2 separate regions of the Homo sapiens genome follow, and region 2 is linked to region 1. A link means that fine-mapping ties the variant in region 1 to the expression of a gene that starts in the linked region. Tissue or cell type: lung. Region 1 holds a variant in brackets; the other region holds the start of a gene. All regions are shown on one strand. Distances are between the middles of the regions.

Region 1 (11,036 bases):
ATATTAGAATACTATATAGAGCATTTATAGAACTAAAATGTTTCAACCTTCAATTGAACAACTATTTTCTTGTTATTTTGGATTTTAGTATTTCAGAGTTTAATTTATGTAATGTCTCCTATGACTTCTTTAGGCTATCCTTGCCGTAAGCTCTATCTTTGGCTTACATATTTTTAACATCCAACCTTATTAGAGCTGGCTTAAGCAAATATATTTTCATGTATATTATTTAATAGTGTTCTTTGAAAACTGGGTTAATATTTGCTTTAAAACCTACAGATTAAGACAAGTGGAAAGATATCCATACCAACTTGATACAAAATTTTGGAAGAAAATAGGTTTCTACAACACTAAAGTGATGTCCTAACTAATTACTAATTTGGAACTCTTGGGGCTGTTTGAAAAAAAACTATGAGGAGAATATTTCAACTTTATATGTGAGGCAGTTTATGAGTTCTCACAGTTTCGGTGTAATTTACTTAATAGCTTGCTTTCTTCCAGCCATCCTTCCTTGCTTTCTTTTTAAACAACTTCTTTTTTCTACTTCAAAAAAGGTACATAAGCTTTATAGAAAACTTAGAAAATACAGGTAAGCAAAAATAAGAAAATTAAAACTACCTATAAATCCAACATGCAGAGATAACCACTGTTATTAATCTGTTAATGACTATATTTTTCTAATATTTTTAAGATTTTTATTTCTTTTTAAAAGTAGGATCATAGTAAACATACTGTTTTATTAGCCTGCTGTTTTTCACTTTACATTATATCTTGGAAATACCTCCTTGCCATCAGTTACTTTCACGTAACCTTTTGATGGTTCTCACCATTGATTGTAAATATTTCTTTTTATGTGTGAGACTTTTGTGGCTTTCTCATTTTCGCTGGGGGAATGTAACAAGAAGCTCAGTTTTCTTTTCAAAAATAAAAATGGCACTGAGTGCGGTGGCTAATGCCTGTAATCCCAGCACTTTGGGAAGCCAAAGTGGGAGGATCGCTTGAGCCCAGGAGTTTGAGACCAGCCTGGGCAACATAGTGAGACCCGTCTCTGCAAAAAAAAAAAAAAATTTTTTTTTTGAGATGGCGTCTTGCCCTGTCACCCAGGCTGGAGTGCAGTGGTGAGATCTCTGCTCACTGCAACCTCCGCCTCCGCCTCCCGGGTTCAAGTGATCCTTCCACCTCAGCCTCCTGAGTAGCTGGGATTACAGGTGTGTGCTACCACGCCCAGCTGATTTTTGTATTTTTAGTAGAGACAGGGTCTCACCATGTTGGCCAGGCTGGTCTCAAACTCTTGACCTCAGGTGATCCACCTGCCTCGGCCTCCCAAAGTGCTGGGATTACCAGAGTGAGCTAACACAACCGGCCTACAAAACATTAAAAAAAAAAAAAAAAAAGGCATGGTGGCATGCACCTGTAGTTGCAGCTACTCAGGAGGCTGAGGTGAGAGGATCGCTTGAGCCCAGGAGGTCGAGGCTGCAGTGAGCCACCTTCATGCCACTCCAGCCTAGGCAACAGAGTGAGACTCTGTCTCAAAAAATAAAAAAATAAAGATAAAGACAGTCAAATGTCATATCAATGTCTCTGAGCTTTCATTTTATTCTGCTTTGCTCCATGCAGAAGGACTCACTGCCTGCTCTTTTCTATCTACCTTCCAGAGATTGTTACAGCATTAAGGATAACTGGTATATTTTGTCTTAGCAAACCCTACATGAACTCCAAAGAACTCTTGAGAGTAATCCTAGACCATATGTCTAACTTTTATTAGTTGCACATAAAAGTCATCTATTGGGACCCTTAAAGGCCTCCTTTACATTAAAATAATAGCAGGCTGTATACCCAGAAAAAAGACTTGACAAAAGTGATGACCACTCACACCCACACTTCTGTGTTCTGTGTGGACCAAGTCATCATGTAGAATGAAGGCATAATCTTAGCACTCCCTGAATGAGAATGTCTAGTCTTTAATAGTTTCAGGTGGGCAGGAACATTGAAAAAGGCAACTCATAATTAACTTATGAGAAAATCCTTCAAAATGATAGAAGCTAATCATCTACCCTTTTCCAGTCAAGCAAATTAAATTTTTTCCCCATGCATATCTCTAAATTGCAATCCTGTACAAGGAAATTATTGAATCTAACCTTAGGCAGTGACCATCTTTTAGCGCTTACACTTAAGCAATAGATCTCCAAGAATAATTTTGAGACTGACTTCATTCCTTTTGAAGAATGGTTTGAAATGGGCCTCATGCTGGAATCAATTTTTTCAAGTGTATTTGAAAATGAGTAAGGATATCTTCTCATAGTAGATGAGTCTTCATTAGTAAAATACACATTGTATGGTTTCTATAATTATGGTATCACATTTTCTCCAGTAAAATTGCCGGTAGGGAGAAGAAAGTTCTTTGAGATGATGTATAGAGTCATTTCTTTTTTAACAATTGGAGACAGCTAGAGCAGAAGCTATTTTAGAACTCAAATTTTAACACCTGAAAATGCATATGAGTTAATGGAAGAATTTAGTTTATTTGTAGGAAAAAAACATAATACATTTCTCTGAGATTGCTTAAATGTTTTTTGAACCAAAACAAATAATATAGAAAACAAGGAAACCAATTAAGGAAAAAAATAACCCACAAAAGAATGGCTGGGAATTATCTCTCATGGCCTTTATTTTCTTCATATTAGATCTCCAGAAATCTATTTGAATTAATTTTGTTATCATTTGCTAAATCACTGGAGGCCATGTCTACACTGCCAAGAGAAAAAAGTTCAAAAACTCATTTCAAACAGCTTCCTACCAAACCAGTCGGGGATATTCTATACAGTATACCAATATAAAAAATACAGAAGAATTATTTGTTCTGATCCTATTCCAAATTATATAAGTTGATAACCAAATGTTACCATTGGAAAACGTCTTGGAACTATTTAAGTCTTTCTATTGCACTTTTTCTTCCAACTTTAAAAGACAAAATTTTAAAATCTGACCCCAGCCCTTGTGATTGTTCAGTATATAATCAATGGTATCTTACAAGGACTATTTTATTTGGAATCAATCAAATTTGTTTCCTGCCAACAATAAGTTAGATTGTTTTTTGCAGTTCTCAAGTAACAAATATGAGGACCGAACTCTCATTCAACATCCAAGCCCTTGCAGTTTGTGCAAATATATGTTTAGCAACAAAGTAAGTAATACAATTCCTTTTTCTGTTATTTTTCTATGTTCATGAATTGAATTAATGTTTTCAGTATGTCGCTGTAGGACATTGCCAGTATTATTTTATACTCCAAATAAATGACTCTCCTAGCTGTCTATTAAGATAAACGTGTATTGCTTTCTTCTATTCTGATTCTAAATAAATCAATGATTTCAAGAAATTGAGCATTATATTACATCTAAGTAGACAGTCATTTGATGTCCTAAACTTCAGGTTTGATCCCTTAACTCTGCTATAACCGATTATTATTGCTGATTTTAAAAAGAAGCAATAATTTAAATTCCTCTGATGATAAAAGTGATCCGATGACAAAAGAAACCCTGAAAAATGTAGCACTGTAAATCTCCATTAATTTATTCATTTATGATCTAGTCTGTTGAATGCATTTGTATGTAAATGTATATTTGTACATTTATCTATAGTTTTGTTTACTTGACACAAACATTGTGAACATTTTCTCATACTATAAAAATACTTAAAATCATTTAAATGTCTATATAATAGAACATTCTATGACCACAGGAGAATTAATTTAACTGTTCTTCTATTGAGAGGTCTTTAGATTGCTTCCACTTTTTCCACTATTATAAGTAATAACAAAGCATTTTTATGGATTAATCTTTATTTACATTTCTGGTTATTGCTTAAAGATTTATGCCTGCATGATAAATAACTGAGTCAATGATTATTAATATTTTTAAGGCTTCCGATATAGATATTATCAAATTAAATTTTCTGAAGGATTATACTAACATATATTGTCATACCACTGCACACCAACATTGAGAGTTATCGTTCTTAAATCTTTATTATTTCAAGCATGAAAATGTTTCTATTTTGCCTGTATTTGATCACTTCTGAAATTTAACAAAATCAGTAGTTTGCATTTCTTCTGTGAATGTTAGCTTTATATCCTTTACTGCGTAGTCCCAAGTTGTAGTTCAAATTTATTATTATATTTTGGTTATTTGTTTCAACTCAGATTTTAAAAACCGAAATCTCTCTTTGCTCCTAGTTAAAAATGGAAAGTTTTTATAGATCTAATAGTTTAAAGTCCTGTGATATTATATTTGACATTCATGTATCTAAATATTTTAGACATATTTTTATTATTTTTT[G/A]TAGGGACAGACAGAATCCATCATTAGTATGGCTTTTTACTGGAATGTTTTGCATTTATTCATTGTTCTTTGCTTGGAGAGCAAATTTAGATATTTCAAAACCACTTTTCATGGGTGTGGTAAGTTTTACTTAGATATATCCTTTGACCAGAAAGTTTGTGAAGAATGTGCAAATTTGCATTTCATAAATCTTGTAGAAGGGCAAATTACTTGAGGAATAGTTAAAATTTTATATACATTTTTATAAATCAAAGTTGAATTATTGAGTCAATACAGCTAAGGCCTCTTTTTAGGATAAAAAGAATGCAGTGTTTAACACAGTTGTTAAATAGAAAAGTAAATGTAAAGTAGATTTAAGTCATTGTATGTGTGTGTGCTTGCAAATATAGGTACAACTGCATTTCTCCTGGAATTTTTTTAACAGCAAAAGAAATATGAATTGTAATTGAGGGCACTTAACAACATATTTCCTTATTTCTTACCTCCCCAGTCCCAGGCCTAGGCAAAAGAGCAACCGTATTTCTGTTTTCTTTGGCAGCAGTCTCTGAGATTAGAGTATTTCTTCTACTTACAATAGATTCTCTGTAAATGTCAATAGCACTTTTTTGACAGCTGAAACAAAGTCTGCGTATGTGTGTGTTCAGGAAGCCTAATAAATAATACCCTACTTGATCACCTGAGTTCTGAATCAATTGAGAAACAAGGTAATACAGTACAACGGGTGGGAGAATCACTTTTATTACTGATAATACTGAGATTGGAAAATGCAGCTTATATCTGTAGCCAAGGGGGCTTCCTCTTCCAGCATCCCAGAATAGACAGATTTACCCACTAGTCATAGGCAGTGCTGTGCAGGTCAGGCCTCTTCCCTGTCTCCCCCACCCCACTGGTGCCACAGAGATAGACTCTAGCCCTGGACAAGTGCTTCCTGTGGGTAGCTCACTTCCAGGAGAAAGTGAGATGAAAAGGGAGGGCGCTGCAGGCCCAGTCCCAGCTCCCAAACTCCCCAGTCAGATCAGTCCCTACATCCTATAGGAGGAAATACGTGAGGGGTCAGAGACAGGCCAGGACAGTGGAGCTTCTCCATGTGGAAGGAAACATCAGGAGTAAAGCAAAAGCATTTCTCTAACTCCTTCAGCCTGTATATTACTGGAGTTCAAGACTAAGGCCACAGTATTGAAATGAATGTGTGGATCTGAAAAGGGAGATGCACCTGTCAAACTGGGAAGGAAGAATGTTTGAAAATAGAAAAATAAAATGACCTGGGCTTGGATTGGGGAAATCAGTTAACAAAACCTGAATGACAACAGGCACACACAACTAGGTGCATGCAGCATATTTAAAAAATATATGAGGAGCTGATTGATAGCATTAAATAGTCAACTGGACCCACTGGTTGCATGTCTCTTTCACAGGTGGAACGATTCTGGATGCAGAGCAATGCAGTAGTGGCCGTCCTCGCTGGCATTGGTTTGGCTGCAGTTGTGTCTGAGACTAACCGAGTGCTGAATAGCAATGGGCTTCAGTGTCTGGAATGGCTTTCTGCAACTCTTTTTGTAGTTTACCAAATATATTCTAATTACAGGTAATACATGGTTATTTTTATGAAAAGTAGCTGTCAAGCCAGAGATACCTGAATATTTAGATTCTAACACTTTATTTCATTGTTAACTTCTGGTTTTCAAGACTCAAAGTGAGACAGCTTGGTTGAATGCAGTAGTTCTTTAACTTTTAGGGTCGTTAAACCTAAAAGTTAAAGCATGGGCGATGAATGGTTTCAGGCCATTGCAAACAAGGGTTTAGGTGGTGCGTGTAGACAATTTGTATCTTTTTCTCTTAAGAACCCAAGAGATACTTTTAGAATCCCTAGTATAGGTAAAATTCCATGACCTAAAATACCACTTAGATGGAGAGTAAAATGATTTAGAGTTTTTTGTATACCCTAAAATAATTCACTTTATGCTTCCCTTTATGTCCAGTTTACTCTGTAGTAGTAAATACTAATTTTTTTGAGACAAGGTCTTATTCTGTCCCCTAGGCTGGAGTACAGTGGCATGATCGTAGCTTACTACAGCCGTGAAATTCTGGGCTCAAGCAGTCCTCTGCCTCAGCCTCCTCAGTAGCTAGGACTATGGACACATGCCACCATTAGCATGCCTTTTTTCTTTTTTTTTTGTAGAGACAAGGTCTCACTATGTTGCCTAGGCTGGTCCTGAACTCCTGGTCTCAAGCAAGCCTCCCTCTTCAGCCTCCCAAAGTGCTGGAATTAACAGGTGTGAACCACTATACCAGCCTTAATTATTTTTAAATTAAGTTCTAAAGTTTCTTAACTCATATATTATTAGTATTACATGTATTTTTCAAAAAATCTGTTTAATAACCATTACAATAAAAATCTCAGTCTGACATAAAAGACGTCTAAGTCTTAGACTATAGTTCGTTTATTTCCAGCAATATCAAGTACACATTATGGAAATGGAAGAGAGTCCCTTGGAATTTTGCTATAGTGAGATTGGACTGGTATTATTTTAAAGGATTACATTTTCTCTTTTAACTTAACTTTAAAAACCAATGTTCTTACCATTCAACCCTGCAATCTTATTACTGGGTATATACCTAAAGGAATATAAATCATTCTAACATAAAGACACATGCATGCGAATGTTTATTACAGCGCTATTCACAATAACAAAGACATGGAATCAACCTAAATGCCCATCAGTGGCAGATTGGAAAAAGAAAATGTGGTCCATATACACCATGGAACACTAGGCAGCCATAAAAAGAATGAGATCATGTCCTTTTTAGGAACATGGATGGAACTGGTGGCCATTATTCTTAGCAAATTAACAGAGGAACAGAAAACCTAATACTGCATCTTCTCACTTATAAGTGGGAGCTAAACGATGAGAACTCATGGATACAGTGAGGGAGAACAACAGACACTGGGGCCTACTTGAGAGTGGAGGCTGGGAGGAGGGAGAGGATCAGAAAAAAATAACTATTGTGTGCCAGGCTTAATACCTGGGTGACGAAATAATCTGTGCAACAAACCCTGTGACGTGAATTTACCTTTATAACAACAAACCCACACGTGTACCCTGAACATAAAATAAAAGTTAAAAAAACCCACAACATTGTTCTTTATAATACTGGGGTAGAGCTGGTGTTAGGAAGGCCACCAGGAGGCCTTGAGAGAAGGGGCTGCGTGTCCTGGACACAACATCATCGCTAGCTCAAGAAGGTGCACCAAGCCCACAGTGTGTTTCCCAACCTTTTCTTATCCCAGTCATCTCCTGGCTCAGGCCATTAGGGCAGTCCAGGTTCGACACCAGACATATTTGCACAGGCTAGGTGTTTTTATCTTGTTTTGATTTTTTTTATTTGTCCCAGGGGAATGGAATACATAGCACTTTTGCTAGGTGGCAAAATGTGCCTCATCACTCTGCAACATAGGGAATCAGGTAGGAAACAGTAATTTTTACATCAATTACAAAGGCAGGGATAATATTCTGTTCCTAGAGGTGTTCATTTGTTTTGTGATACCCCAGATATTCTCAGCTCCATCAAATGTAATGGACTTGGTAATAACAGAAAGGACATTGCTTGTCTCATTTTTTGATACTAATTACTGTTTTGTCATCTTTTTCTTTTTTCATAGAATGCTGTCAGAATTCATGCCAGTTTTTCTTTGAAGTTAGAAAGTTAACTTCATTCTTGAAAAGAATGAAGTTATTGGCAATAGCAAATAATGCCTGGAGAGAAGTAAACAACTCAGGAAACTCGTCCTCCCCTTGCTTCTCATTGGTCTCATTCCCTAGCAATTTCTTGATCTCCAAAGGCAGAGAGGGACACAGGAGGCCTGTGATTCAGGGGAGAAGTGGAAAGGATCAACCTCTGCATGCAAGAAAATCATACAAATGCCATACAAATTCAAGTCAGAAATGGGCAGATTTCCTTTTGCATTTCTGAAAGTTCCTTTGAGTAAATGGAATGAACATAAAATTGCCTTAAACTCCAAGTGGAATCAGAAATCTTACTTTCTAAAAATAAAATTGGATTGCACTTAGGGGGAAAAAAGGACCTATTCTTGTGTACTGATTCCCTTTTTCTGGAAATGATTATAAACTCCAGAAGTAAGCAGTAGACTGATTTTTTTTCAATTGCACAATTAGCTGCTGCTTATCAGGTGATAGTATTCTCTCTTCAAATATACATATTATTTTAGAATGTATTGAAACACTAAATGTTGATTGTATGATGGGAAAAGAATGGCATAGAAAATAAGCCTAGTCTTATTAAAACTGTAGCAAAGTGTTGCTATTTTAATTTTTTTGGATCCTTTTATTTAGTGTTTGTGACCAAAGGACCAACTATGTGATTGATAAGTTCGCAAAGAACCTTCTCACCTCTATGCCTCATGATGCAATTATCTTACTCAGAGGAGATTTGCCAGGAAATTCTCTCCGTTACATGCATTACTGTGAGGGGTTGAGGCCTGACATTTCATTAGTGGATCAGGAAGTAAGTATATGAAAAATATACTTAGAATATAGCGATGATTTAAAAACATATGTTTTGGAAAAAACATCTTTTTTAAAATGGTGGACGGGTACAGTTTTCATGATCACTGTTAGGTAGAATATATATGACATTCTACATGTTAGGTAGAATATATATGGGCATACTTTTTTTTATTTTAACTAATAGTGTAAGTCACACTAGTTGCTTCTTTCTCATTTAAAAACATTTAAACTGAACGTTTTAAGAATTAATGTGTTTCATGTTAGATTCATAATGTTTTAGGTCTCTAGTTCATGTGACAAACCATAAAAGTGTTTGTTGTATGGTAAATCTATTTTTAAATTGTTATTTTACATTCAGGCCGGGCGCAGTGGCTCACGCCTGTAATCCCAGCACTTTGGGAGGCTGAGGCTGGCGGATCACGAGGTCAGGAGATCGAGACCATCCTGGCTAACATGGTGAAACCCCGTCTCTACTAAAAATACAAAAAATTAGCCGGGTGTGGTGGCACGCGCCTGTAGTCCCAGCTACTCGGGAGGCTGAGGCAGGAGAATGGTGTGAACCTGGGAGACAGAGTTTGCAGTGAGCCGAGATCGTGTCACTGCACTCCAGCCTGGGCAACAGGGCGAGACTCCGTCTCAAAAAAAAAAAAAAAAAAAAAAATTGTTATTTTATATTCAGCTAACTCAACCATTCAAATTTACCTTGCCCATTGGTCCAGGGATTAAAATAAATTATATTGAATATGAAATAAATCATACTGTAGGTAAGTAAACATTTCACTCAAAATAGAAATTATTAACCATAATTATGCTATAGAATTTTTATATAAACTTTCTTAATGCTGTGACAAAAATACATTAAGAGAGGACTTGTGAAAATTTTGAGGGCTATGAAAACTTTTTTTTTCATTGAAGAACTATTTAAACTAAGATTTATTATTTAAGCCATAGATACATAAAAGGGAAGAAACCTGTCTCTGGTGTTTTTAGAGCAGTCATTAGGAAAAGAGAAATTCTTAATCTTAAAAGAATAATATGATGAATTCAATTGAACAAATTATTAGGCATAGTACTTAATGCACTTTGTTGAATTAATGAATAATTATAATTTTTGGAGAAAACTTTATAAACAGATTTGTAAATATACAATTTTACATTTTTATAAGCAGTTGCATTTATATCATGGATGCCGATTGATTAATTTGAACTTCAGTCTAGATTCTGACAAAAGCTATGTTATTTGTTAATAACATGGTTCCACACTATGATTTTAAACACTGTTTAGAATGTCAGCTCCTGTAGTTGAGAAGCATGGATTAGAAAGTGAATTAGACCTAAACTCAAGTCCTCATTCTGTCACTTCCTGGATATGTGACATGGGGCTAATGATTTTTCCTCTCAGAGCTTCTGTTCCCTTATTTATGAAATGTAAGTCATCATTATGTAAGTTAGGGTGCATTTGAATGCAAGAAACAGAATACCTGACTTAAATGACTGAGTTTTTAGCCTCACATGAGACGCAGTCTGGAGATAGGTGATGTTAGGATTGATAATATGAGCAGTTCAGGGACGTCAGTTTCTGAGGCAGTTTTTCTGCCATTCTCTTGACTTTTCCCTCCCAGTCACAGGATGCATGCCCAGTTCCAAACATCACAACCTAAAACAAAGCACAGTGCTTCTTCTGGGGTATCTCCCTCTCTCTATTTATTGGAAATAACATGTGCCCCAGAAGCCCCCCAGCAGACCTCCACTCAGGCCCCACTGACCAATACTGAGTCATATACTCACACCTAAACTGCTTATTAGCAAAGGAGAATGACTAGACTGAGAACATTGCAGCCTGAGCTACCTGATCAAAATGAAGATTGCATTAGTGAAAAAGAAGAAGGTATTCACTGTTGAGTGGGCAATCAACAGTGTCTGATACAGTTATTCTCACATAGCAAGGTTATTTTGAGAACCAAATGAGGAACAGTAAAGTCCATAGCACACAGTGGGTATGTAATTAATATTAATATCCTCCAGAACCAGAACTATTGGGTAATAAAGCCTAATTCAGTAAGTATTTTTTGAGTATTTACAGTTTAGACTTAGATTAAAATTAATTTGTCATTTGCTGGGTAATGTCTTACATAAGACAAGTAAAACATAAGCACAATTTCTCAAATGATGATA
Region 2 (11,036 bases), 39 kb before region 1:
CTGGTAACATTTCTATTGCTCCAAACACTTGCCAACATCATATATAGTTAGACTTCAATTTTTGCAAACCTAGTAGGTGTGTAGTATCTCATTGTGGTTTTCATTTGTATTTCTCTGATTACTAGTAAAGTTAAAGATGTATATGAATATTTACTTACAATTAATTCTAGGTCAAATTATATGAATATCTTTATAAATTTTTGATACACATAGATACATTGACCTCCAAAATATTATACCAAATTCCCTTATCACCAATCCCCCATATCTATTAAATACCTTTGACAATTGGAAAGGTGGAAATGGCATTTGTTTATTTTTATTTCAAATTCCTTTGGTTACTAATACATTTATATGTTTAAAATTACTATTCTGAGGCATTTGTCAGGGATATTTGTATCTCTTGCATTTTCCTATTGTAGATGGATTACCGGATGGTATTCTAGGCATCCAATTTCTAGTCTAAAGTTGCTAACCTTAAATTTCACTGATATTAGAAATATTAAGACATTGACTTTATATCAAGTGGGATTTGGGGGAATTAGACATCTAAATTGTAATTTGTAGGTGAATTTCAGTGCATTAATGTCTGTGAAGCTACTCTGAATGCTCAGAATAAAACAAAGAGGAGTGACTTTTGCTTTCAGAAAGATGAAATAGGTATTTTTTTTGAATTCTTCTTGCTAAGTACAACTAAACACACTGGACATTATATATAAAACAAAGATAATAAGACTTCAAAATGTGAAGAAAAAAAGGCAGTTGAGGCAGGAGCTCTGAAATCTGAAGAACAACAGAGTGGTGAGGTCCCTGGACTTCTTTTTCCCCCTTATATCACAGATTGGTTGCTAAAGAAGCTAGCAACCCAGAGATGCCAATGGGCCCAGACAAAAAAAAAAAAAAAAAAAGCCCCAACAAAAAGCCTCGTCCCTCTAGCTAAAAGACCAAGAAAGGGGCAAGACAGATACATTTAGAAAACAATCACTCTACTGTAGCCAAAACCAAAGAATAAACCATGAGGAAGGCTGAGTGGGCAGCCTAGACTTCTACCCTCTCCAGGTGCCTCCACATGCCACCAGGGTCATGTCAAAGAAGGCAAAGGAAGAAGCCAGAACTTTCATTCTGGTTGGGTGGTAATGAGACCCCTCTTCTCCATGGTGGCAGTGGAGACCACGTGGGGATCTTTGACTTCCACCCCTGCCCAAAAAGAATGAGGTCCCCCTTTCCCTCCCTTCTGGGGTAGTATCAGAGGCAGCCTAGTGAGAGTCAGGACTTTCACCACTGTCCAAGGAAAAGGAGGCCATCTCCATACCCCCATAACCATGTGGTGCTAGTGGAAACCACAAGTGGAATAGTGACGAGGACTCCTTTACCTTGCAGCAGGGAGGCAGCAGTAGAGGCCCGGCAGGTAGGTGGAATGTCCACCTCTGCTCAGCAATAATGAGGAGCCATCTCCTTGGTTTCAACAGAAGCTAGATGCTGGCCATAAATCCCAGGAAGACTCCCAGAGCCAAATTTAGGGTACCATAGGGCCATGGATCTATGTATTTACTTTCCGTCAATCTGATGTTCTATATCTAATTGAGTGTTCCCTGGCCTCTGTGATGTTCTTCGAATGTGTCAACTTGGCTTGGCTACATTCCTCAGTTTTTCAATCAAACACGAATCTTGGTGTTGCTGTGATGGTATTTTGTAGATATGACTAAAGTTCATAATTAGTTGACTTTTTTTTTTTCTCCAAGCAGAGTCTTGCTCTGTCACCCAGGCTGGAGTGCAGTGGCATGATCTTGGCTTACTGCAGCCTCTGCCTCCCAGTTTCAAGCGATTCTCGTGCCTCAGCCTTTTGGGTAGCGGGAATTACAGGTAAACACCACCACACCTGGCTTTTTTTTTTTTTTTTTTTTTTTTTGTATTTTTAGTATTGATGGGGTTTTGCCATGTTGGCCAGGCTGGTCTCGAACTCCTGGCCTCAAGTGATTCTCCCACCTTAGCCTCCCAAAGTGCTGAGTTTACAGCCATGAGCCACCATGCCCAGCCTCATTTGTCTTCAAAACCGTGAGATTATCATAGTTAATCTGGTAGGCCTGATTCAATCAGTGGAAAGGCCTTAAGAGCAGGGATATGGGTCCCCTGATGAAGAAAAACTTCCAGCTGTGGACAACAGCTTTCTGCCATGCCCAGGAGTTCCAGTCTTCCCTTCCTGATGGCATGTGCTACGGGCTTCAGAGTTACTTAGCCAGCCCTCAAAATTACATTATACAATTCCTTGCAATAAATTGTATCATACATATCTCCTACTAGTTCTGTTTCTCTGGATGAATCCCAAATTATTTACATATTTTTCTGCTTTATGGTTTGTATTATAGTGGCTAACTCTAAGCCATCATAGAATGATGTAGAGCACAAACAATAAATCAATACTCGTTATATGTCTTATTGGTCTGTCTCAGGATCAAGTCCAACGATCACATGTTTACACATCATGTGTAAAGAGAGACATCATGAGGTCTCTCTCTTTATCTCTAACATTTTCTATCTTCAACCCTTCTCTTCTGTCCTCCTCAGTCCCATCCTCTCCAATAACCTGTACATCTTTACTTCATCACTATGTCTCTCCAAATACTCCCTTGAGTTACAAACAAAACAAGACATTCAAAAATCTTCATTTGACACTTCGATCCCTGTGAATTTTCATGCTATTTCTCTCTTTCCCTTCACTGCCAAACTTTTTGCAAATGTATTTTATTTTCATGTCTTCCATTTGCTCACTTCTTAGCCCACTAGTACCTTGTTTCTGTAGATACTACTCTACTGAAGCTGACCTCTTGAACTTTCAAGGTTCAAATACCTCCAGGTCACCAAATCCAACCATGCAGAGCCTGCTAGTTGCCCCTCAGTATCCATTCTCCCCTTCTTCCTTTGTAATAGAATTCTAGGCAAACTGTCCAGCTGAAAAGTCTATTTCGCAGCATCCTTTGCCCCTAGGAGTGACCTGTTATTCAATTTTGGCCAATTAGATATAGCAAAATTGTGGAATAGCATTTAAAAAAATAGTGCTTTTTTAAAAAAGCTGGAGCAGGCCTTTCTCTTCCCATCCTTTCTTTTTCTTCCTCAAGAACAGATGTAATGTCTGGAGCATTAGCAGCCACCTTGGATCAGTAGATGACCTTGAGAATGTGAGCTGAGTGGGATGGTGCAGAAAGATATGAGGACTTCAGCTGTGTCCCTAGTGGAATCAGGGAGTTGCCAAGCCAGTGGTAGACTGACTTCCTATAGACTTCTGACTTCTTTTATATAAGAGAATGATTGTTTTAATGTTTAAGACACTGTAGCAGGATCTGTCACTAGTAGCTAAATGCAATCCCTAACGGATATGCCAGTGATCTCTGATTGTTCATGTATTCATTTATTACATAAATATTTGTTTAGCACCAATTTTGTGCCAGGCATCATTTTAAATATGGTGGAAATTAGACAAAGTCCATCAGGTTTGACAGGCTATTTAGACATAGAAATGGAGAGGTCGGGGGCAGTTGGGTTTTTTAAAATAATCGGTCGCTAAAAAAGAGAAGCAGAGGAGGTCTAATTTTGAGAAATATTGCCCCATAGTTGCCCTTTAAAGCTTCAATATGATCATCTCGGGAAAGAAGACAGAAAGAGAGAAAAGTCTAGAACAGCCCAGGAATACTTCAGCATTTGGGGGACCGACAGAAGCAGAGCCAGGGCAGGGAGGCCATTGATAAAAGGAAAACCAAAGAGTGTGCTATCAATGAAGGCCAGAAAAGAAAATACTTCCGGGGAGGAAGGAATAGTCAGATGCTTACTGAGAGGTAGAGTCAGACATAAACAGAGAACTGGAAGTTCTTAATCTTCAAAGGAAAACAACCATGAAGCTAATGAAGCTTAGGCCTCACAGTTCCTCTCTAGCCCAGGTGTCTTCCAATATCTTGTGCCTAATTCTGTATCTGCAGTTTTATATCAGTTTACTTACATATAATTCTCCAAGTTTTATACACTTGAGCTTCACAAAATCTAGACGTGCCTCTCTTCATTGTCCTTTACCTCTCTGTAACATCCTGACCACATGTACTTCATCGACTTTTCTTCTTTAGCTTCTGGTGATGCCTCATTCTCTTACACTGTTCTCTCCCCTTCTCCAGCCATTCCCTAAATGAGAATATGGGCTGACATTAGACCTCAACCTTGTTCTCTCTACACTATCCCCTTATCAAGTTAGTCATTTATATCATCCTTACACGAGCAACTCCTAAATTTGTACTTCCAGCACTGATCTCTACCTCCCAAACATGGACAAAGAATTATTCCCCTCCAAAATAAAAAAATTTTAAATAAAACTCATGAGCAAAAGTGAAATGCATAAAAAGGGAAAGAAGTATATGCTTGACCCAGTCAAGGTTACTCATTGGCATGTTCTTTCAGCAAAGAAATAGAAGACAGCCTATCTTAACTATCTATTGCTGATAACTAACAAATTAGCCTGCATTTATCAACTTAAAACAACATTTATTATCTCGCGGTTTCTATAGGACAGCAGTCTGGATGAGGCTTAGTTAGGTCCTCTGCTTCAGGGTCATCCACAGGCTGCAATCCAAGTCTTGACAGGAGTTATAGTTATCTCAAGGCTTATGTGGGGGAAGGATCCACTTCCTAGCTCCCTCACATGGTGTTGCCTAGATTCAGTTCCTCTAAGGTTGTTGGACTGAAGGTCTCAGTTTCTTGCCAGCTGTTGGCTAGAGGCGGCTCTCAGTTTCTTCCCATGTGGACCTTTCCACAGGGCAGCCTACACCATGGTAGGTGGCTTCATCAGAGAGAACAAGTGAGAGGACAAGAGGGAGTGCCAGCAAGATGAAAGTTAGTCTTTCATAACCTAATCTTGAAAGTGACATCCATCACTTTTGCCTTATTGTATTGATAGAAGCCAATCCTTAGGTTAAGCTCACACATAAGGCGAGCAGCTTATACAGGAAGTGAGTGAGGAGGCAGGGTTATCTGGGAATCCATTTTAGAAGCACTCTACCACACAGCCCCTCTCCTCCAGGAACTCACAGTACAGCTGAGAAATTACCTGGAAAAGGCTGGAAATTGTATAAGTACCTGGAAAAGACTAAGGTGTGCTGGCCCCATGACCGTCAAGGTAGGTATATGTTACTCTATAGTTTAGTCACTGTGTCTCTATCAAATTGCGCGTAACACGTTTGAGATTGTCACTGGTTTTCAGTGTGTCTTTGAGATACATTTTATGCGGGTTGCTCTCCTCCCCGCCCACTCCAGGATAATTGCTTTAATAATAAAACATAAGCTTAAAAAGCTTAACTGCGCTGTTATGTAGTTGTCCTTATTAACGGCTCCGATTCTTTTTTTTTGCGTTACAGCTCATTGTAAAATATGGTGATTCAATTTCATTTTCCACTTTGCTGTGTTGAAAGCTCCAGCAAAACACTCCTCTTCATTAAACTAGGAGACACCTTTATCATGGTTTGAGTTATCTGCATGAATACAGGAACTCAAATTTCCCGACTCATCTACAGAGTTTTCATTATGCTATGGAATGAAAAAAAAAAAAAAAGACGCACTAGCATATTCTAATCTCTCTAAAAATTACTCAGTGATTTAATAAGTAGCACACAGACTTATTGTAATTAGTCATAGTAACGTAGTAAATCGTAATAAATACATAATTGTGATTAATGTATTTATTGGCTTACTTTGCACATACGGTAAATACACCACCCTTTTTTTTTTTTTAGCACAGGTAGGGGCTCCTGGCTGATCGTGGCCCTTTTGTGCAGTTCCACCCCGCACCGTAGGGGGCAGGAGCAGCCCTTCCTCGCTCGCGGTTTTCGACGCTGCTTTGGTCTCTGTCAGACCCAACCAAGTCAGTATAAAAGGGGGGAATAGCCATGGAGAAGGTAGGCCTGTGGCCGGGCTTGCTTTTTAAAGGGAATGCTCTCCTGGTGATTAGGAACCTTAAATCACATTATAAGTAGGTGAACGCCAATGCGTGGTGCACTGCGGGAAAACTCGCAGGGCCTGGCTCAAGGGAGGCCTGGCATTTTCTCCTCCCCGCGCTCAGGCGGAGAAAGGTGCGGTCCAACCCGCGGAGGCTCGACCCGGAAGCCGCCGTGGCCGCCGCACAAGCTGCGCTCGTCTCTCGGCTGGGGAGCTCCGTGTCGCACCGGGTTCTTGGGCTGGCCGTGTCCTTCTCCCTCGGTCGCCACTGGCCCATGAGTCCCCATGGCGACGGCAGGGGCCAGGCCCAGGGGCGGGCAGTCCGAGTGGGGCTGCGGCGCTCCGGGGGCATCCGCGGCGGCGTGGCGGTGTTCGCCGCCGTGGCCGCAGTGTTCACCTTCACCCTGCCCCCTTCGGTACCGGGGGGAGACTCCGGTAAAGTACTCGCAGGGTTGCCCCTTCTGTCCCTCTCCCCTGGTCCCAGAACGGGCAGGGTCTGCGTCTGGCCCCTGCTCTTGGCATTCGGTCTGGTCAGCTCTGGGCCTCCATCCACCCCCCTGTGCACAGCGCACTATTGTGTGTTCCAGAGCCCACTTCTGTTTCCATTCCTGTCGTTGTGGTTTCTTTAGTTCTCAGGTTTTCGAGATGGGGCGTATTGTTGGTTTCGCCTGGTGGGGCTTATCGACCTCTCCACTTCCCCAGATCTTTTATCCTGGTCCTGAGTATTTACTTTCAGTCTTTTTTAGTCCACAGATATTATTCACGGTGTCCTTATTATGTTTCAAACAAAAGAACAGTAGTGGCGAACAGATAATTGCTAGTGTTCCAGTGCGGTTAGACAATACACAAGTTAATGAATAAACAGCATATTCACTGGTGATAAGTTATGGAGACAGTAGGAGGGAAATATGATTGAGAGTGGGGGTAAGTAGTGGGTCCTTCCGAATGACTATTCAGGAAAGACCTCTGAAGAGGTGGTGTTTTAGTTGAAACCTGAATATTGAGAAGGAACTAGCCATGCAGAATATTTGCAGGAGAACTCTTAAAAAGGTGGAAGCCAGGTGCGGCTGTTTCTATGAAAAAGAAAAGCATGACTCATTGGCCCTTAAATCACACTAATTGTTTTGTATTTGATGCAAGAAACAAGATCCATGTTTTGTTTTTGGATTCAATAATGCCATATCATGGCCAGTAATTTTGTCAGAATAGTGCTGTAATTTCAGGTGGTGAACCTATGGACTGAAGAAGCAGTTTTTGCTGCATGACTAGTGATCCCCAAATTGAGCAGCTTAAACAGCAAACGTTTATCGTCTCCCGTTTTTGTAAATCAGGAGTCTGGGTGCCGTTTAAGCTAGATGCTCGTACTCAGAAAAAGGTTGCTGTCATGGTGTGCGATGGGGCTGCGGTCTTCTCAAGGCTCAATTTGGGGAGAAACGCAATCTAGTTCTTTGCTATGTGGGTCTCCATAAGTTAACTGACTTCTGTCAAGAAAAAGATGAAGGACACCTCTCTGTCTGACAGCTCTGTCATTTTGTAACCTAATACTGTAAGTGATATACCACTTCTGCATTTTATTCCTGGAACTTCGTCAGTAAACCCAACCCATATTCAAGGGGGAAGGATTACACAGGTGAGAATATCAGGACTTGGGGATTAGTGGGGATCATATTTAGGGCTGCCTACCACGTTGAAGATCTTTGATGTTACATCTTCAAATTGTTACCTTTCTTCTTTCAGGTCCTGTTGCACAAGTAGGGATAGTGTTTCATTCGTGTAGTAGGGAGTTTCTGTACAGTGTTACCAAGATTGGTATTTCATAATGGAAGTAACTTTATAGTTGTGAGTTTTGGTGCTGGAGAGCATTATTCAGAGGTTAGGTAGTTCTGTTACTTGTAAAAAAATAAAAAGATTGACAGCTACTTATGGTTGGTTGAGTGTGAAGGATGGGAGTGAGATTTATAATAACTGACGTTTGTTGGGCACTTACTATGTGCCAGGCACTGTTCCAAGTGCTTTATATGGGTTGTTGTTTTAACCCTCCCAGCTACCCTTAAAAGTAGGTGCAATTATTATTTTCCTTTTATAAATGGGAAAACTAAGGCTAAGCTATGCCCAAAGTCACACAAAGTAGAGAAATCAGGAAAAGAAAAGTATATTGACTTCAGAATATGCCCCCTTAACCTCTACTTTTCGTCAAAACATTTCATGAAATTCTTTTCTAAATCCACCATCACATATGTAGTGATGTTTAAAATTTATTTAAAATCATGATTATTGCCTTGCCTTTATTAATACTGTATTTTATTTTTTCCTAAAAGAATAAAGTTGTGTATTCACCTTGAGTTACCAAACTTTAGGTGCTTTAATTTTGTTTGGTTTGATGTTAAATAGTGGTTGCTTCTAATATTTTTATGTTCATTTTTGGGAATGATAAACTGTTTTCCAAGTATATGCCAATATGGAAAATTTGCTTTATCGTATATTTGATAATTGTGTTTACATGTTGAATGCACTATTCTTGAATGTTTATGAATTATATTTTCATCAATAAACAGAACACATCTCAAAACCAGTATAAAGCATGTATTCTTCTTCCTGATAAGTCTTACATTTTACTCCATAGATTCATCACATTGTGTCGTCTTGCCAAAATTATTTTTTGTACCACTTGACACACACAGTTCATTTATGGGCAGGGTGCTTGTGGTGCTTTTCGGGGAGGGGGTAGGAATCTGGCCTTCACTAAATTAGTTTGTACGTGAGTTTATTTCAAAGATACTGTCTTTAACAGATGTGATGTGTGACAGTCTAGTCTAATTAATATTGAGAAGTATGATATAAAGGGAGCTGGTTTTTGTAAAGGTTAAGCATCTGCTGACAACTCTGGGCTTGCCATTAGTTTGTATTGCAGACAACAAAGCCGTGGTTCTCAGACAGGAACGTACTTCAGAATTACCTGGGAAACTTGAGCCCCCAGTGCAAGTGGGTCTTAGTAGATTATGGAATTTGGAGGTGTGGGCAAGGAATCTTCATTTTTAAAAAGCAGGTTAATTCTGATGCAGGTAGACACAACTGAGGAACCTTTCATGTAAAGGGTTGGGAGAAAGCCAAGACTCGGGAAGCTCGAGGTTTTTTTACTATTCCCTTCCTCTTTATCACAATCAATTTAAGAGTAGTATTTCCCTTTAGATCTTTATCAAGGTTACATTTAGAGACGTTGAATGGGGACATCTTTTCTATTTCGATTTTAGTTTAACATTTGATAAGAATTGATGAAAGTTTGTCACATTCCAGATTTATCTTTATAGCAGCAGAAGTCTGGCAAATAATAACAGCACACTGACTTTTCCATGGTAAAAAGAAGTTAGAGAAAAACAGCCTATTTTTCTTAATGTTAAATGTAATTCTGAATACATTTTAAATGGAGGAGAATGAATAGTGACCTTTGAAATTTTGAATTTATGGTGGCTTCGTTACAAAAAGATTACAGGAACAAAAAAATCGAAAATAGTTTGGAGCTAAAGACTTAAGAGCTAATCCATTATGGAGTAAACTATAAAATCATATCCTTTACAGTAGTTAACAAAGGGAACAGTTGTTTGAGACATTGTGAGACCATAAACTATTTAAAAAGAAGCATTTAGGATATAAAATGTGCTGGTTTCTCAGGTGCTCTTGAATATCTCTTAACAAATGTCCTTAAGTAATTGACTTAATCTGTCTTCAGGTGCCCTTATAAGGCTTCCATGATGCAGTCACCTAAGACTGGGGTGTCTTAGTAGCAAGGATGACAATGTGATGTGTATTTTTGTTAACCTCTGTGTGTATGGCTTGAATTGATGCTTTGTGTGTGGCCAGAGGGGAGAGGTGGTGGTATCCTGGCACGATCGTGAAATGGATAGGATAATGTTTTTAAACTTAGTGGGAGAGAGAAATGAAAACCAACCAGAATATAAGGCCATCTAAAGTGCTAAATAGACTCAAGCAGGTTCTATGGAGGAGGAAGAAGTGATTAATTCTGATGGGGAGGCTGGGGAAGCAGGTGTCTAAGGAAAGGTTACCAAGAAGGTGGCAATTGAACTTGGCCTTGAAGGATTTAGGGGGAGAATGCTAGGGAAAATATTCCAGGGTGAGAAAATGAGTGAGAAGAGGTGCAAAAGAGGACCACTCCAGAGAAACAGTGGGTAATAAGATTTGACTGGAGGGAACATAGGTTTCATGGATATAAGCCTAGAAAAGGGACCTTGAAACCATAGAAAGCTTGAACGTCATGCTGAGGAATCTGAACTTCGTTCAGTAAGCAGAGAGCAGCCATTGAGAAATTTTAGACTAGGGATGCAATCCAGCCTTTTGTGTGTGTGTGTGTGTGTGTGTGTGTGTGTGTGTGTATGTGTTTAGGGGCATGGGGGAAGGCAGGTGTTGATTATAAGTGATTTCAGTATGAAGATGAATTGAAGTAGGATTGGTCAAGTCTGTTGCCATAGTCCAGGCCAGAGAGAGTAAAGGTCTAAATTGTAGCTGGGACAGAAATTAAATGCAGAGTATTGCTATCTATGAAAGGATAGGAAGTGGACAGTAGTACATTTCCTAATAGGTACTAGTAACTTTCATGAGTCATTCATCAATATTGATTCCTTACATTGTACGGTACTACAATGTACAGGGATGAGTCAGAAATAGTCCCTGTGCTCTGAATACGTAAAAGGTTAACAAATAGGCATCAAATTACTGCATCATAATTTTAGAAATAGTCACTAATGGTGAGGAACTATAAAGGACTATGTAAAGAATATTATTTAATGGTTTGAAAAAATGTCTTACAGTGAACCTTACCGAAATAACGTGGAGTTAATAAACACTTGGAAATCATTTAAAGATATCCAGTGCAATTAATGTGGAGAAGATACCCAAATGCCAGTTTTAGGGTAGTATGGGACATTTTATGGAGTGTCCAAACCTCAGATGTCTGCGCATTTTACCTTACTATAAGGTTGTATCTTTATAGACTTTCGTGCTAATTTCTTGAGGGATAATAAAGCATATTACACTAATGCTCCAACAGTATT

What was found. PIP is the estimated chance that this variant, and not a neighbour inherited with it, causes the effect.
Region 2: TMEM260 starts here. The variant in region 1 is fine-mapped to the expression of TMEM260 in lung (TOPMed, PIP above 0.99).

The regions. Positions count from the first base shown.
Region 1 is chr14:56,612,844-56,623,879 of GRCh38, forward strand. It overlaps TMEM260 (transmembrane protein 260), which reads left to right. Exons shown (of 16, transcript NM_017799.4): 8 at 3,101-3,184; 9 at 4,340-4,454; 10 at 5,751-5,920; 11 at 8,688-8,859. Among named protein-coding and RNA genes, the nearest start is that of TMEM260, 39 kb to the left of the region's middle. The variant G/A (reference allele first, on the strand shown) is at 4,336.
Region 2 is chr14:56,573,670-56,584,705 of GRCh38, forward strand. It overlaps TMEM260 (transmembrane protein 260), which reads left to right and starts at 6,129. Exons shown (of 16, transcript NM_017799.4): 1 at 6,129-6,405. The coding sequence starts at 6,246. RefSeq lists a silencer at 6,197-6,416.